3 separate regions of the Homo sapiens genome follow, and regions 1 and 3 are each linked to region 2. Evidence: fine-mapped expression QTL. A gene starts in region 2. Each other region holds a variant in brackets. All regions are shown on one strand. Distances are from middle to middle. Region 1 overlaps PTPRE (protein tyrosine phosphatase receptor type E). Region 2 holds the start of PTPRE (protein tyrosine phosphatase receptor type E). Region 3 holds the start of AS-PTPRE (lncRNA antisense to PTPRE protein-coding gene).

Region 1 (5,220 bases), 160 kb after region 2:
TCACCTCTCCCCGGGAATCCCAAGTCACCTCTGGGAACCAAGATGGAAATGAGAGAAAGCCCCCTGGTTTCTACAGGAAGCCCCCCAACAACACACAAGTCGTTATGGAAGAGCACACCATGCTCAGATGGGCCCCCACAGCAGAGTCTTCCAGAACACGCTGTCCTGGAGACCAGGGTCCGAGGACCAGGCTGCCCCTCGCCAGCTGCCACTTCAGCCTCGGTTTCCTCACCTGTGATGGGAAGGACAGCCTCGGCGGAGCCTGTGACTGGCATCTGGGTGGGCTTTGCACAACATGAAGAATTACTCAAATGTACAGCCAAGGCCACCCCACAACCCCCTGTCCACAGAGAGCCCCACTTGTTCCTGGCAGTGATTGGCCTCACCAGGGTATCACTTTGATTAGATACTAAGTTTCCATCTGTTACAGACAGGTTCATTCTGAGTATCACAGCACTGCCAGGGACAAAAGCCACCTGCACGCAGTGATGCAGGCGCTCTGCACCTGTCATGCAGGTGTTCACGAGAAGCCGTCCAGGAACCCCCGAAGAACGGGCTTTCCCCAAGTCTGAGCAACACTCGCTTGCTGGGGCCAAGCAGAGGCTGGACCCCACCCCACCCACCCTCCAGTGTAGCTCATACTGGGAAGAATTTGCAGGGTCAGATAACAGTAATCTGACAGATGCCACCTCACTTAATGCCCCGAGTCAGATGACTTGGTTTGCCCAGTTTGACAGAGAGGGAGGCTGGATACCAGAGCTGTTGCATAGTTGATCTGAGGTCCCTCTGCTCCCAGGGGGACAGATCTAGGATGCCAATCACACATATAAGAAGAAGACACTGTTTGGTAAGTGAGAAAAATTCTCCACACAGCCTAATCCGAGGCTTACTGCACCAGCTGTTAATGTGCCTCTTAGTAGAGTGTCGGTGGCTATCAGAGGACCGGCCTGAGATCACTTTACTGAGACCACAGCTCCCTCTGGTGGCTGCACTGTAGCTTTGCTCCTAATTAACCAAAAAAACAAAAAGTTGCATCCAGTGACCTGGGTGCGCAGGCCCCTTCGGGGCCTTTCATTTACTTCGGGAGGAGTGTGACTCACGACGCAGCATCTTTCTCTTTCCCCAAAGCGCGGGCGTGGGCCGGACGGGCACCTTCATTGTGATCGATGCCATGATGGCCATGATGCACGCGGAGCAGAAGGTGGATGTGTTTGAATTTGTGTCTCGAATCCGTAATCAGCGCCCTCAGATGGTTCAAACGGATGTGAGTCATGCCTTCCTCTTGCCCTGATCTAGCTTCCCAAAGCAAACCCGATGCCTTCGCCACACAGGTGTGCAGGGCCCTGGCTCTGATGGGCACGTGGCAACCAGCCTGGGCCTGGCCTGGCTTCGCTCCCCATAGCCTTCCCTGCCCACGCGTGGGACCTCAGGGACTCCCTCGTCCTCATCTTTCCCTCGTATCCTCATGTGAGATGGGGCAATCCTACTCCCCCAAACGGTGCATGTACACAGTGCGTGGCGTGCTCACCAATGTGAGGCTCTGCTGCTACCGTTCTCCTTACTCAAGGGCATAAATGGTCGTTATCCGTGGCCGGTACTCTGACTCTTGCCTCACACCTCCTTGTGTTGGCAAAAAGAGAAAAAGAAGAAAGCCGCCCTCTTTGGTCTGCCAAGCTCCACGTGGGCCAAGACTGCAGGGCAGAGTTGAGGGTGTGGGCACCCCTGGCCTCTCTGCAGATGCAGTACACGTTCATCTACCAAGCCTTACTCGAGTACTACCTCTACGGGGACACAGAGCTGGACGTGTCCTCCCTGGAGAAGCACCTGCAGACCATGCACGGCACCACCACCCACTTCGACAAGATCGGGCTGGAGGAGGAGTTCAGGGTGAGTACAGCTGACCCTCCTCTCCATCCTGGTGTAAGCAGCCAAGGGCACGAGGAAAACAGGTGACCATTTAAAGGAAGCCTCTTTCAATCACTTGCCCCTTAACTGACCTCAGAAAAAGCAGGGGCAATACCTGAGCCATGATTTACAAGGGAAGAAGGATCAGGTGGCTTTCAGAGCCTCATAGCAGCCCTACTAGGCACACATTTGTATTTCCCAATGCTAAGGAGGCTTCCTGGGTTGGAGAGTGGTTTCCTTTGAGCAGGCGTCCTTGCCAGCAGCACTAGTCCTCGGCTGAGCAATGTGCTCAGGAGTGTCAGAGGTTTAACTGTGTCATTATATCCTTCTCTGCTGCAGAAATTGACAAATGTCCGGATCATGAAGGAGAACATGAGGACGGGCAACTTGCCGGCAAACATGAAGAAGGCCAGGGTCATCCAGATCATCCCGTGTAAGGCACCCGTGGCGTGGCTTGGGCAGGGCTGGGGCGGGGCTGGTGCCGGAGGCTTTCATCCTGGAGAAGCCATTGACCGCTTACCCCTGTGCACCAGGGTCAAAAGCAGGGTGTCCTCTGGCCTCAGGCTAAGGGCTCCTGTGTGCTGTACCAAATGTCAGGTAGAAAAGACACCTGTGAAGCACCAGCTGACCCAGACAGTCCTGCATGGGTCTCAGGCAAGCTGCTTCGGATATGAGCTTGCAGATGCGGGAGGGCAGCCGAGGCTGATTTCAGGGGAGGGCTTCACAGAAGCTGGAGATTTGCGGCAGGCACGACTTGGGATTCCTTGTCTCATTCCTTGTCTCCCCA[A/G]GCCTGGGCAGAGGCCCGCCTCCCCCTTACACAGAGGGGCCTGAGCCACCCAGCCGAGGCCATGCAGGTGAACTCAGCTGAGACCACCTAGGAAAAGGCTGTGGCCTTGAGGAGGACAAGAAATGGGCCTAGGGTAGAGTCAGGACACTGGTCTGCCACCCAGGTCATGGGAGAGGGAAGGAGGACCTGGCAGGTGTGGGAGGAGTGGAGGCAAAGCTGGCAAGAAGACAGGGCCACATGCAGTGGGCAGGGGAGTGGGAATCGGGAGGCTCACCAAGTGGGAAAAAGAGAAACTTGAGAAACCCGGCCCCAAAGCAGACTCCACAGGGATCCGAGGAACTAGGGAGGGAGGTGGGAGATGCCCCGCTTGGGAGGAGGGTGTGCCTCGTTATAGACTTGTCCTCGACAGAGTCACAGCTCAACAAACACCATCTGGAAACAGCTGGGAGCAGGCCTGCTGCAGCAGGGTCTCCCCGAGCACTGCAGGCGAGTAGAGCTCCCCGGGGTGCTGCCATCTTCAGACTCTGGCCCTTGGTTTTCTGGGGCCCCGGTGTCCTGCTGGCCACTCTAGATTGCTTGCCTGGCCACATTCCATTTACTCCTTCAGCGCAATATTTTTAGTGCTTGTATTTTGGTATGTATTATATCGATTCCTGAAAAATGAAAATGATAATTGGGTGGTTTTCAGAGTTTTCCTTCAAAAAGAAAAATACCCCTGAGCCACTTTAATTATCGTCTCTCATAACGTAAACTTTCCAAAGAGTTGGCTTTACGTAGTGATTTTATTAATAGGATCTATATTTTGCAAGCTTGTAGCAATGGATTAAAGTTAGCAAGGTGGGACCCTTTTTGTAATAACTAAAGGAAGATAATGCTTTGCAGATGACTTCAACCGAGTGATCCTTTCCATGAAAAGGGGTCAAGAATACACAGACTACATCAACGCATCCTTCATAGACGTACGTATGCTGGCCTGGGTTGTGTTTATGCAGATGTGTTTCCTTCACATGTGACCACAGACTTGATTAGCTTGTTTTCACAATGAGAAAGAATTGACATGTTTCCAGAAACTCAGCCATTTTTGTTAGCAGAATTACTTGCTTAAAAAAAAAAGTGGCAAGGCACGATGGCTCACACCTGTAATCCCAACACTTTGGGAAGCTAAGGCGGGCAGATCACTTGGGGTCAGGAGTTTGAAACTAGCCTGGCCAATATGGCAAAACCCGTCTCTACTAAAAATACAAAAATTAGCTGGGCGTGATGGCAGGTGCCTGTAATCCCAGCTACTTGGGAAGCTGAGGCAGGAGAATTGCTTGAATCCGGGAGGCTGAGGTTGCAGTGAGCTGAGATTACACCACTGTACTCCAACCTGGGCAACAGAGTGAGAGCGAGACCCCCTCTCAAAAAAAAAAAAAAAAAAAAAAAAAAGTGGACTTTGGAAATAGAAGGACATAGACTCGCTGCTAAGTAATTGGCTCTTTTTTCATTCTGCTTTTAATATATAGTTATTTTTCTTTTACATATCTGTTACACACCAATTATATATCCACTGCCTCTGTGCTCTTTCTCTTGTGTGATTTCTGCAATGTGTACCCACGTGGACAATACAATTATGTGTTCAGGGCACACAGAGGCTGTCTTCATGCACAGTGGAGTTCGCAGAAGAAGGGCAAAAGGGGGAATGGCAGCCAAGTGTGTGTTCATATTGCCATTTGCAGATGAGAAAATTGTACCAGAATCCGGTGGGCTCCATGCTGATCTAGCTGAAACACACAGAAACATGTTAGAATCTAAGCCACCAGGTGCTGTTCAGGTGGCCACAGGCAACTACCAGTTCATAATACCCATTTGTTGATGACCTCAGGGGCTGACGGTGGCCGTTATGGTTTCAGATAAGCGAGCTTCTTGACCTGCTTGTCAGGTGTGTGCCTGAGTGCTCGTGCCAACTGGGGTCTGGTGCAGACCATGGAGGATGAGAGAGTTTTCCTCATTAGGCCTTAGGCTGTCCTAAACTTAGGGAGCAGGTAATGGAGCCAGGATGGAAGGAAGTCAGACTCTAACCTCTGCGCCTCCATTTGAAGGGCTACCGACAGAAGGACTATTTCATCGCCACCCAGGGGCCACTGGCACACACGGTTGAGGACTTCTGGAGGATGATCTGGGAATGGAAATCCCACACTATCGTGATGCTGACGGAGGTGCAGGAGAGAGAGCAGGTGAGGAGTGCCGCCCAGCCCGGTCCCTCCAGGGCAGCCTGTGCACCTGAGGCACTGTCCCCGTTCATTACAAATGTCCCACCTGCCATCACTGCAAACACATGGGTGAGACCAAGCCAGGACCACTAGGGAAGGAGAGAGATTGGAAATGAAAAAGGTTTCATTTCACCCTTTCCCTTTTTGGGAGTGAGGTTTAACCATAGCTACCCGCTGCCCTTTATCCTTAGCCTACATGTTATTTAACCTGCCCTGAAATTCTGCCATTTGGTATTGGCCAAGATCATAACCTGTTGAAGAAAAAGACATTTATTG
Region 2 (5,220 bases):
CAAGGCTGTTCACTTTCCAATAGCAGATGTCTGACAAAGGCAAGTTGTTTCTGTCTTCTTAGCTCACAGTCTCTGCCTCCTCAGCCCTGCAGCGTTAACAAGCAAAACTGTGCTTAGCAGAGCTTTGTAATTATGGCCTTCATGTACATAAGCCTGACTCTGTAGACCACAACAGCAGAAAAATCCAAAGCCTGGTGACGTCATGTGCTACCTGGCCCCACCTCAACCTGGGCTGTTCCTTGGAGGTGCACTCAGGAGGGAGCCACCCGCCCTGCTGGGCTCCGAGGTGACCAGGCTGTCTGCTGCTGCTGGCTGGGGCCCATCCTCCTCTGCTCTGACAGCCCAGACGCCTTCACTGAGCACCTCCTGGCTACTGACGTTGCTTTAGGAGCTTGAGTCTGAGAAGCCATGGAGATCAACAGAGCCTAGGCTGCTGGAGCTTACAGCCCTGGGGGTAGGGGAAGAGGGCACGACAGACACAAAAGGAGCCAATAAACCCACAAATAATTCCAAACTGTGATGGAGGATGTGGAAGAGAGTGGCAGAAGAGATGGATGCAGGGCGATCTTCCAGAAGCCACCAGTAAGAAGGAACCAGGTGCACTGGTTGGAGGAGTCCCAGGCAGGAAGGAGCTTGGCTCTGGCACTGAGAGAAAGGAGCCGTGATTGGAGCCCAGCGGGCAGGGGTGAGAGGCTCAGAGCAGCCAGGGAAGTCAGGCAGAGCCTCGTGGGAGTTTGGGTTTTAATATTCCTGGAGGCTTTTAAGCAGGGGGCTAGCAGGACCCGGTTTACACTTTGTGAGGTGCCTGGGACCAAGTGTGAAGAATGGATCATCTGGGAGAGTGGGTCAGAAGCTGGGGAGCCACTGCAGGTTTTGGAGGGGCGCAGGCAGTGAGATGAAAGGGCAAGATGCATGGAGAAGCCAGTGGGAAGTGGACTTGGGCCCTCTGGGAGGTGGACTTGAGGTGGGACACGGAGGCAGGGACAGGGACGACTGCAGAGAAACTAAGTAAGAGCAAGAGGCAGGTCTGAGACAGCAGGAGACAGCCAGGAGGAGCTGAGCTTGGAGGAGAGGGCCCCAGAGTGGTGCTGCTTAGAGTCATTCCCATACGGATGGTGTTTAAAGCTTTGGGGCTAGACAAGGCCCCCAGGGACAGAAATGGGCAGGGCAGGGCAGGGAGGTGGAGCTCAAGTTCTCCACTGGTTTCGCAGCTCTCCGGCCCCTGTGGAGGGGAAGTCCCACTCTGGGCAAATCACGTGGGGGTGGCCTCTGCCAGGAGGCACCCATTGCTCTGCAGCCTTTGGGGTCCGTAGCTCTGTCTAAACAGGCCTTAAGTATGCTAAGAGTCGTCGGCTGGCAATCGGTGCAACGTGGGGTAACACACCGTAAGTGCCACTTTCTCCCCATCCATTCATTCATTCATAAGCCTAATGAGCTGGGTCCCTACCACAGAATGCAGCTTCCCTCATGAGGGCTGGGCCGTGGCCCCATCCAGAGGGCACGGCACAAAGGTTCAGAACCAACATGCCACCAGTGTCTTTTCTGCTCCTTCCAGGGAACTGCCTTTTCTCTGAAAGCTCCCTAAATAGCTTGAGTGAAATTCCCTGGAAGAAGTCGGCTAGACAGCAGGCCCAGTGCCTGGCTCTGTCGCTCTTCTTTCTCTTTGTGCGTTTTTAACTTTGACAGATACTGCCTTCGGGACAAGCGAGCCCTCTTCTACATCCCCCAGACAGGCGCCTTATCCCCTCCTCTTTCCAGAGGAGGCCACCAGGCCCAGCGACCTCACAGCTCTCCCAGCTTCCTCGCACCAGAAGCGCACGGGGTGCCCTGCGTGTCCCACACCTGCTGCAAGACCAGGGCGAGTCCCTAGTCAGGCCACTTCCTGGTGCACAGGGATAGGGCAGGGAGAGGCAGGGCCTTGCCTTTGCTCTCCACCAGGTGTGAGTGCCTGCCATACCCTGACCCTCTGTCTACGCACCTGGGTCCCGGCGGAGTGGCTGGACCAGGCCTCCCCGGAAGGGGCACCAGCCTTGAGTAAACGGATGCCCACAGTGTCTGGGTGCTCCCAGGGCAGGGCCGCAGGGCCTCAGGGCCATACCCGCCTCGCAGGTGGGGCGGGCGCCCTGGATGCGCTCCCCGCGCCGGGCACCAGGCGTCGCCCCCGCTCCTCGCAGCGCCCAGGCCCCCGCCCCCGCCGCGGAGCCACAGCCGGAGCTGGAGCCGAGGCGGCGGCGGGACGCGGCCGGCCGGACAAATTTCCTGCTAGGCTGCGGACAGCGGGCGGCAGGAGCCGGCGCGAGCGGCTTCAGGAACCCACGGCCTCTGCGCGTCCCCGCGACCCTTCTTCGCGCCCGGCGAAGACAGCCGGGCGCCCCGGAGGGCGGCGGGCAGGCGCCCGGGAGATGCGGAGCCTCCGCTGCAGCGCGATCTGCGCGACCAGACCGGCCCCCCCGAGGTGAGCGCGCGTGCGGACAGGGACCCTGCGCCCCTGTGGGGAACTGTGCACCCCGGGAGGCCCAAGCAGGCCGGGGCGCTGCCTCGGCCGCTGCCGCGGGAGGGAGGGGCCGCTCCGGGGCTCAGAGTCCGGACCCCGGCCCCGCCGCCCCCGCGGCGCGCCCAGTACCAGCGGCTGGGGCCCGTACGACCCCCGACCCCGGCCTGTGGCGCGTCCCCTCACCCGGAGTCCCCAGCCCAACTTGGCGACCACAGTGGCAGTGCTCACGCTCCCTCTCGGTAAACAGGAGGAGGGCGCGCGTGTCTGCGGGTGGCTACAGTGCGCGGGGGCCGGCGGCAGGGCGGCGTACGTGAAAGCGGGCGACACAGAGAGGGGGTGCAGGCCGCGCGTGGGGGGCTGCGCCCACTCGAGGCTGGAGGCTGGAGCCTTTGAAGAAAGTGGCTCGAGTTGTGCCAACTCTGGGAGGGGCCGGCGCTCTGCCAGGATGCTGCCCCGCAGCCGGGCGGGCGCCCGCGCCTTCCCAGGGAGGCAGGTGGAGCGGGATGCAGCAGCCGCCGGGGGTCGGAGATGCGGCAGGGAGACCCTGGCAGGTGGTCCAGGCTGGACTGCCGCGATTTGCAGGGTCGACGACCTCACAGGGCTCCTGAGCACAGATGCGAGCGCGGTGCCAATTCTGAGAGCTCCCGGGACCATCTGGGGAAGGCCGGGCAACCCACAGGATGGGGAGGCAGAGCCAAGCCGGATGGAGACCGCGCTGGACCTGACCTAAATTCCTTCCAGGCATGCAAACCTTTCCAGAAAGATTAGGCAATTATACTTGCAGAATTATGATATTGGTTTGTCTTGAGTCGTGACCATTCCATCAGAGTTTCAATCCAGGAAACTCAAAGAAAGAATACAGCTCTCTGCTTGTATTTTAGAGTGAATGAGCGTATAGGTGAGTTGAATGAACACCAGCAAAGAGTGATCACGTGATACAGAAATTACTGTGTCCATGTCCAGTCAGCTCTGCATTTGGCCCCAGGTACCCCTTGACCCAGGGCGTCTGGAGGTCTTTGTGTCCCAAAGATGGATGAAGTTCTGCCTCTGCACACTAACGACTCTTGTCCATTTAAACTGTGTGTATGTGGGTGGGGAGGGGGGGTGTGGAGGGTCGTTTCCAAAACTGGGATAATGGCCAGAGGAGGGCATGAAATGGTGGGGGCCAGTGGCTGGGGCAAGCGTCTGACCACCACGGTCACTCAGCCAGCATGGTATGGGCAGAGCTCTGTGGTGTGAACAGGGTTAGGGTCTGTACTTTCCAAGCACAGGCTCTTGGCATTTGGGGAGCAAAAGGTCAGAGGCGAGGTGGAGCAGGCCCAAGAGGTGGGGGCTGCGCTGTCAGTGAGAGAGGCCTGACGTACCACCCAGCCCTTCCCAGACAAGGCTCTGCCCCTGAATCTGACCTTGGGGGCCAAGATTTTTGTTCATTGATGTTGGTGATGCCTGTGAGTCACCACCGCCCCCTCCCTGCCCCAACAGACCGTTCCCATGTGGACAAGAGCTAGGAGCTAGATTTGTCTCTGTAAAAGGTCAGGTCACTGGATGTGTCCAGATGGCTTGGGACTTAGTCACACACTCCCTCATCAGTTCCAGTCAAACCAGTTGAGGGAAGTCGATGAGGGTGTTATTGTCTTTACGTGTGATGCTTCTTGGAGGCCCTGTGTGGACACAAAGTGAGGACAATGCGGAAAGTCACACAGAGGCCACCTCTCATTTCTGTGGGGGACAGCTGGCAGAGAGAGATGCGCTCCCTGTGTCAGCACCGCCACCTCCACGGAAGCCTGGAGGAGGTCCTGAAGCACTGTGCCCTGATGGGAGCCCCCTCTTCTCCAGGGATGCGTGTGTGCAAACCATTGCCCCTGAGAGTAGATGCGGCTGTGTGTGTACATCCTTGCCCCTGAGAAGAGAGGTGGCTGTGTGTGCAAATCTTGCCCCCAAACCCCAAGAGAAGATGCATTCACAGTGGGGGTGATGGTAGATGCATCAGTTTCAACTGGTGAAAGTATGCTTCTCCCAGCTGTGCCTCAGTGGGTCCACTGTGCTCCATCTGCACCACCATTAGCCTAGTCTAAGGTGCACCGCTGATCAATATTCCCTCCCTGAAGGCCAGAGGTGTGTTTCTAGGCCCGGCCACTCCTCTGTAGTTCTCCTCCGCAGCTGCCCACTTGACATTTCTCCCTGGGATATCAAATGCCCCTTGACTCAATGCGTCAAAATCAAACTTGTGATCTCCCCTCCCCTTCCAGTACTTTCCCAGTGTTGTCTTTATCCATCCAATTCCACCAGCCTCCATGTTGCTTCTGAAATGTATGCCAGACTATAGTTTCTGTGAAGAGAGGGCAATACTGTATCTCCAGTGCCCAGCCATGTGCCTACCAGTGGAGCCTTGAGGACTACTGTCCATGGATAAACAACTTGGAAGTGAGACCTTCCCGAAGCGCATGTGCTGATGGAGCAAGTGTGTGTCTGTTGCGTGGATGTTGTATGGTTGATAGGCAGCCACACATTTTTGCCGATGTGGATGGGCATGGTCCATCCAGGGCTCATGTGGCCAGCCCTTCTGGAGATGCTGGACTCACCTGCTAAAATGACTGCTGGCTTGGACCAGAGACACCCCAAGTGACCTCCCAGGGAGGCAGGCTTGGGAGCAGGGAGGGAACAGGATCGAAGCTGCCCCGTATTCCCTTGCTAGACAAGTCTTTTTCATTTATAACATTTGAGTC
Region 3 (5,220 bases), 160 kb after region 2:
CACACTACACACATGCACACCACACATACACCACACACACTACACACATGCACCATACACACCACACACACACCACACATTACACACATACACAACCACACACACCACACACACAATACACACACACCACACTCACTACACACACACCCCACACACAGAGCACTCCACGGTCAGCCTTCTACCCCGGAAAACTGCTTGTGCAACAGGCTGGATCTACCAGACGCTCCTCACTGTGCTCGCCTTCCAGCTCTGGGGCAGACTCCGGTGGTGGGACTGAGGGTCAGAGTCCCCAATCCTAGACCCCCACATCCACTTGTCCTCATGGGGCTGGTGCTCATTTCCCTGGGAAGCCTGGGAGAGTGGACCCAGTTCTCCTGTCCTGGGGCTCTTTTAAGTGCACCCACACTTGGCAACACTGGGGCTGGGCCCAGTGCAGGGTTCATAAAATACAGCCCTTGCACTGCCAGGGGCCTGGCACATTCTGCTATTCTTGCTATGTAATGACCCAGCAGCCCCCATCCTGGATGCTGAAATCCTACCCTTGTCGTCATGCCACAGCTGAGACAGTCAGTGTTCACCAAAGCAGGTGCATTCTCTCTCAGGACACTAGTGTTCTCCATGGGAACGCTGAGGAAGAACATCTCTGCCATCCCTGGTGTCGCTGTGAAGCTGCTTTTGCCCTTCCCAGGAGCTGACACTGCAGATGAAGAGACAGCACTGTGATTTCTGGAAGAGACAGCACTGTGATTCCTGGTCCTAATATCTTGGCTTTGTTTGGGTTTTTTTTCCAGATGACCATTCTAGGGTGATTCTGAGCCAACTGGATGGAATTCCCTGTTCAGACTACATCAATGCTTCCTACATAGATGTAAGTGGGCAGAGGTTTCTTGTTCCCCTGGCCCAGCTGGGGCATGAGCAGTAAGCACTTTCTTGTCTGGTGCCCGGAGTGTAAATTGTCACAACCTTTCTGGGCAGTTTGGCCACAAGCACAAAGGGTACGGAACTGCCCGTGCTTTACACACTGGCATCAGCATCTGGGAATTTGAATTCAAGAGACAGAGATGATCACAGAGGATGTTCACTACAGCATTATGTATATTCCTGACCAAATAGAACAGGGAGCATGGGTAGTTAAACAGATTGTGGTAAAACCATGTGCAGTGGACTATTAGAACTTGATTTGTATTAATCTTTAAAAGATCATTTAATATCAATTATAAAATTCCCATTAAAAATACAACATAAAATAAATTGTACATGTTCACCCAATTAGAGGACAGAAATGTCTGCATGTCTGCTTGTGGGTGAGTCTGGGAAAGGTTTGGCAGAAAAACAGACTAGAGAGGGGACGTATGAAGTAGGATTTGTTATTTCTGGAATTGCTGGTGAGTTTTCTTTCCTTCTTAACCTTTTCCTGTGTTTTGCAAATTTTCCATGGTGAATATGTACTGCTTTCCTAACAGCAACACCAACAAATCCTTTCAGCAAAGATAATTCTGAAAAAATATAAATCTGATGTTATTTTTTCTAGGGTTACAAAGAGAAGAATAAATTCATAGCAGCTCAAGGTAAGCTTTTTATTAATTTCTCAACGTATTTTTGGTAACGTGAATAGCTCTTATTTCCTTCTCTGTATGCCAACAAGACCAAGGACTTATACTGGATTTGTGTGTGTGTGTTTACACCTAACAGACACGTTAGATATCCATTCACACAACGGATATGTGTAGTCAGAGAAACACACACTTATTCCCACACCTATATGGTGTGAACACAGGGCACGCAATGGCCCCGGCTGCCATTCCAGCTTGTTAATACTTGCGTCAGATAACCTTGAATTTCTCTCAGCTGGCTGAGCCCTACATGGCTCCCCAAGTTTGGGCGAGGGGTTAGTGGGGTGAATAGCTTTTCAGATCAAGGCCATAACTAAGAATATACTTCAGCTGTGAAAACGTGCCCTTCACCTTGCACAGGGCTACCTTGTGTGTTGAGTACTGAATCCAGCATCACTCCGTTCCACCAGAGGTTGTCATCTGCAGGACCTGGTGTACGTGCGGTTAGATATCAGTGGAGCTGAAACCAGATTCCTCAGACTTCCTCACTCTTAGGCCAGGAGTCTTTAGGGCAATGAGCTCTGAAAGTCAGCGTCCATCAAAATCACCTGGGAAGTTGTTACAAATGCAGAATCTCTAAGAAAAAAGGACACACATGTGCACACGCAGAGGCCATCAGGAATGTGCCCAGCTGGAAACCTCAGGAAACCTGACGATCCTGGCTGAAGCAGATGAAAGCATGTGTTTCTCTCTTGCCAGCAGACACCCACAGGGAGCTAGCCCACGGCAGGACAGCAGCAGGGCCAGGGGCTTCCTTATCTCCCCGCCCATCCCCCTCAGCACGTAGCACTTAGCTCGGGACTGCAAAATAGCCGCAGCTCAGACAGGAAGTGGATAGGGGCAGAGGACTTTCTCCTAGTGACACTTTGTCTGTTGTTCACATCCCCCTCCCGAGGGACTTTAGCTCATATCGTATTGGACAGCACCATGCTGAGAGTAAGATTTTGACAAAGAGGAGGGGATTGGGAATGCAGGGTGAGGCTGGCCAGTCTCTGCCTCTCGCAAGGCTTTCACCAGCTCTCCCACACTTGGCTGTAGACCCAGCCCTCATCTGAACCCTGCTTCTTACCTGTGAACGTCATAACTCAACCTGGGCCCAATTATCTTGCCCACTGAGGAGTTCCTAGCTGGAGTGGGTGAGTGGCAGGACAGGCAGCCCCTACCGGTTCCGGAACGCTTCAGGGCATGACGTGTGTGTCCCCAACAAGCCTGAGAAGGGAGTGAACAGCTGTCCAGGGGCCAACGGCCAGGGTGCCGGGGCTGGGACCCCAAAGGGACTTCCCTTCATGCCTTTTGACTTCGAAATTGTCCTCTACACACAGGTCCCAAACAGGAAACGGTTAACGACTTCTGGAGAATGGTCTGGGAGCAAAAGTCTGCGACCATCGTCATGTTAACAAACTTGAAAGAAAGGAAAGAGGTGAGTTCCAGGCATCTGGCCCCGGTATCACTTCCTTTCAGCTGCTGCTGCC[G/A]GGCTGGGGATGTTCTTACCACTTCCTTTTCCTACTTCCCTCCCTTCCTCCCACTATCACTGCAGAAAAAAACCCAAACACATGCAGTGGCTTACAGCATTTTCTTCACGAAACAAATCCCCTGTGTCCCCAGCATCTCACTGTTATCTAATCTGTGATAACACAATGACACAAGAGTTTCCTTTTTTTCCCAAGTAAGAGTGGCCCCCGGCTGGCCCCATGGCTCTGCCTGCCTGATGAGAGACATGAATCTTAGAGTTTTAGGATGTTGAGCGTGTCATGCGGCAGAGCTCAGGCTAGAAATGAACATGATTTCGCGCTTATTATCCAGACTAGAGAAATGCTTTTGGAAAACGTTGGTATATTGAAGAAATGTTGATTTGTCATCCGAATATATTTAATTAGCTGTTTCTAATTCAAAAAAGGATGCATGTACGTTATAAGAATTTGAATCATTGACAAAGAAGAAAAGTTGAACTGATTCGTTTCCTAATGTAACAAGTACTCATTAGCATCTGCTGTGCTGGGCCAGCTCTGTCCCAGGTGCAAGGAGTAGGGGCTCAAATTCAGGGCTGAGAAGTGGTGGCTGTGGGGAGCCTGGGTGCGGGGGTGGGGTTGAGTGACAGGCAGGGAGCCATGCCATAGGCAGTGAGCTCACTCTCCAGAATGAAAGAAGAACTGGGAGCCTGAGGGACACTTACCACAGGTGGGGCGAAGTTAGGAGGCTGTGCTTCTGGCGTGTTCTGGCATGAAGGCCCGGTTCAGTGGGAGCCGTGTGTCCTGCCCGGCCCTGCTCAGGGCCTGCTGTGTCCTGAGCTCCTCAGTCATCTGCTGGCCTGGCCCCAGCAGTTCCCAGGCATTGTAGCGAGGACTGTGGGGAAGGGCTGCCATTTTTAGATGGGAGTACCAGGCCTTGGGGAGCTCAGCTGGGGCAGAAGATGGGTGGCAGGAGCCCACAGGAAGGGCAGGCTGGGAGGTGCTCTGGTCCCCGCAGTGCCAGCTTACTAATTGCCACCCAAAACACAGGAAGCAGCCTCCAGCCACCGTTTCTGGTCAGGAATAGGATGGAGGCTTTCATTCTGCTCTGGGGGGAGCTGAAACAGGACTGTGGAGGGCCACCCCTTTGCCCTTGCAAATCTTGCCCTTGTCATGCTTTGTCATGGGGAAGAGGGAAGAGTGACAGAGGGAAGTAGGGGATTCCCAGCCCAGGACTCTTCACTCTGCCTGCGCTGTAGCGGCCATGGAGGAGGACACCCACGCGAGGGAAAAGGAGGCTGACCCTTCATCAGGAGCCTCAGGGTCCCCCGTGACCCATGGCCCATAGGGACCAGTCTTCCTGGGGTTGGTGCTCCAAGCATGAGACCAGCACAGAAGCAGTGGGGCTCAAGGACGCCCTCACTTCCCTCTTTCAGTCATTCTGCTGAAAGTGTCACTGGCATTTTCTCTCCATCTTCCCCCACAACCTCCTACTGGATTTTTCCACTCCTGTGACTCAGTGCTGGGCTGCTGCCGCGTCCTCATTCTCACCAATTCAGATGAAATCATTTCTCAATAGAGTTCCCTTTTTCTTAATTGCTCACACTTCTGTTGTGGTTTCCTTGGCTTCCACATCCTGGGCTCTGCATTGCAAAACACAGCTGCCCTGGCATCTCATGATCGGGTGGGAGGGAGGCAGAGGGAGGGGGTATAAAACCAGCCACCAACACTGAGCCCTTGAGAGGCTGACACATGTTCTCAGTTCCTACTGGAGAGCCTTCAAGGTGAGAAGCTCAGGAGGGACCCCAGGGCTCCCCATAGGGCCAAGACTCACCCAAACCGGGACATGTAGGCATTTGCAATTCCCCTGGGCTGCATCAGAGATGGCCTGTGACCCACAGCCCCGCAGCCCCGCCCGGAGCCAGGTGTAAGGAGGGGGAAGTTGTCGGTAGCCGTCATAACACAATGATGCTGCTCTCTACTAAATACCAGATGCTGTTTGTTTCATAAGACTGTTAATCCTGGAGGCTTGACCACGAGCTGTGCTGCTCAGGGGCCATTCCCTGGATATACTCTCTGACTACTGGCAGGCTTGTTCCATTCCAGACATGTTTCTCTGGCAGATGAAGTAGATCTTTTCCCCCTTGAGGTGGGTCCTC

The links.
Region 1: its variant is fine-mapped to the expression of PTPRE in whole blood (TOPMed, PIP above 0.99).
Region 3: its variant is fine-mapped to the expression of PTPRE in whole blood (INTERVAL, PIP above 0.99).

The regions. Positions count from the first base shown.
Region 1 is chr10:128,068,564-128,073,783 of GRCh38, forward strand. PTPRE (protein tyrosine phosphatase receptor type E) reads left to right here. Exons shown (of 21, transcript NM_006504.6): 13 at 1,129-1,264; 14 at 1,738-1,887; 15 at 2,245-2,338; 16 at 3,575-3,651; 17 at 4,774-4,908. Among named protein-coding and RNA genes, the nearest start is that of AS-PTPRE, 8.7 kb to the left of the region's middle. RefSeq lists a silencer at 776-973. The variant A/G (reference allele first, on the strand shown) is at 2,693.
Region 2 is chr10:127,904,855-127,910,074 of GRCh38, forward strand. It overlaps PTPRE (protein tyrosine phosphatase receptor type E), which reads left to right and starts at 2,249. Exons shown (of 21, transcript NM_006504.6): 1 at 2,249-2,455. RefSeq lists a silencer at 2,093-2,212.
Region 3 is chr10:128,060,148-128,065,367 of GRCh38, forward strand. It overlaps PTPRE (protein tyrosine phosphatase receptor type E), which reads left to right. Exons shown (of 21, transcript NM_006504.6): 8 at 792-868; 9 at 1,532-1,568; 10 at 2,936-3,033. It overlaps AS-PTPRE (lncRNA antisense to PTPRE protein-coding gene), which reads right to left and starts at 2,278. Exons shown (of 3, transcript NR_136150.1): 1 at 1,980-2,278; 2 at 540-697. RefSeq lists enhancers at 1,821-3,020, 2,352-2,401, 2,812-3,021, 3,361-3,959. The variant G/A (reference allele first, on the strand shown) is at 3,086.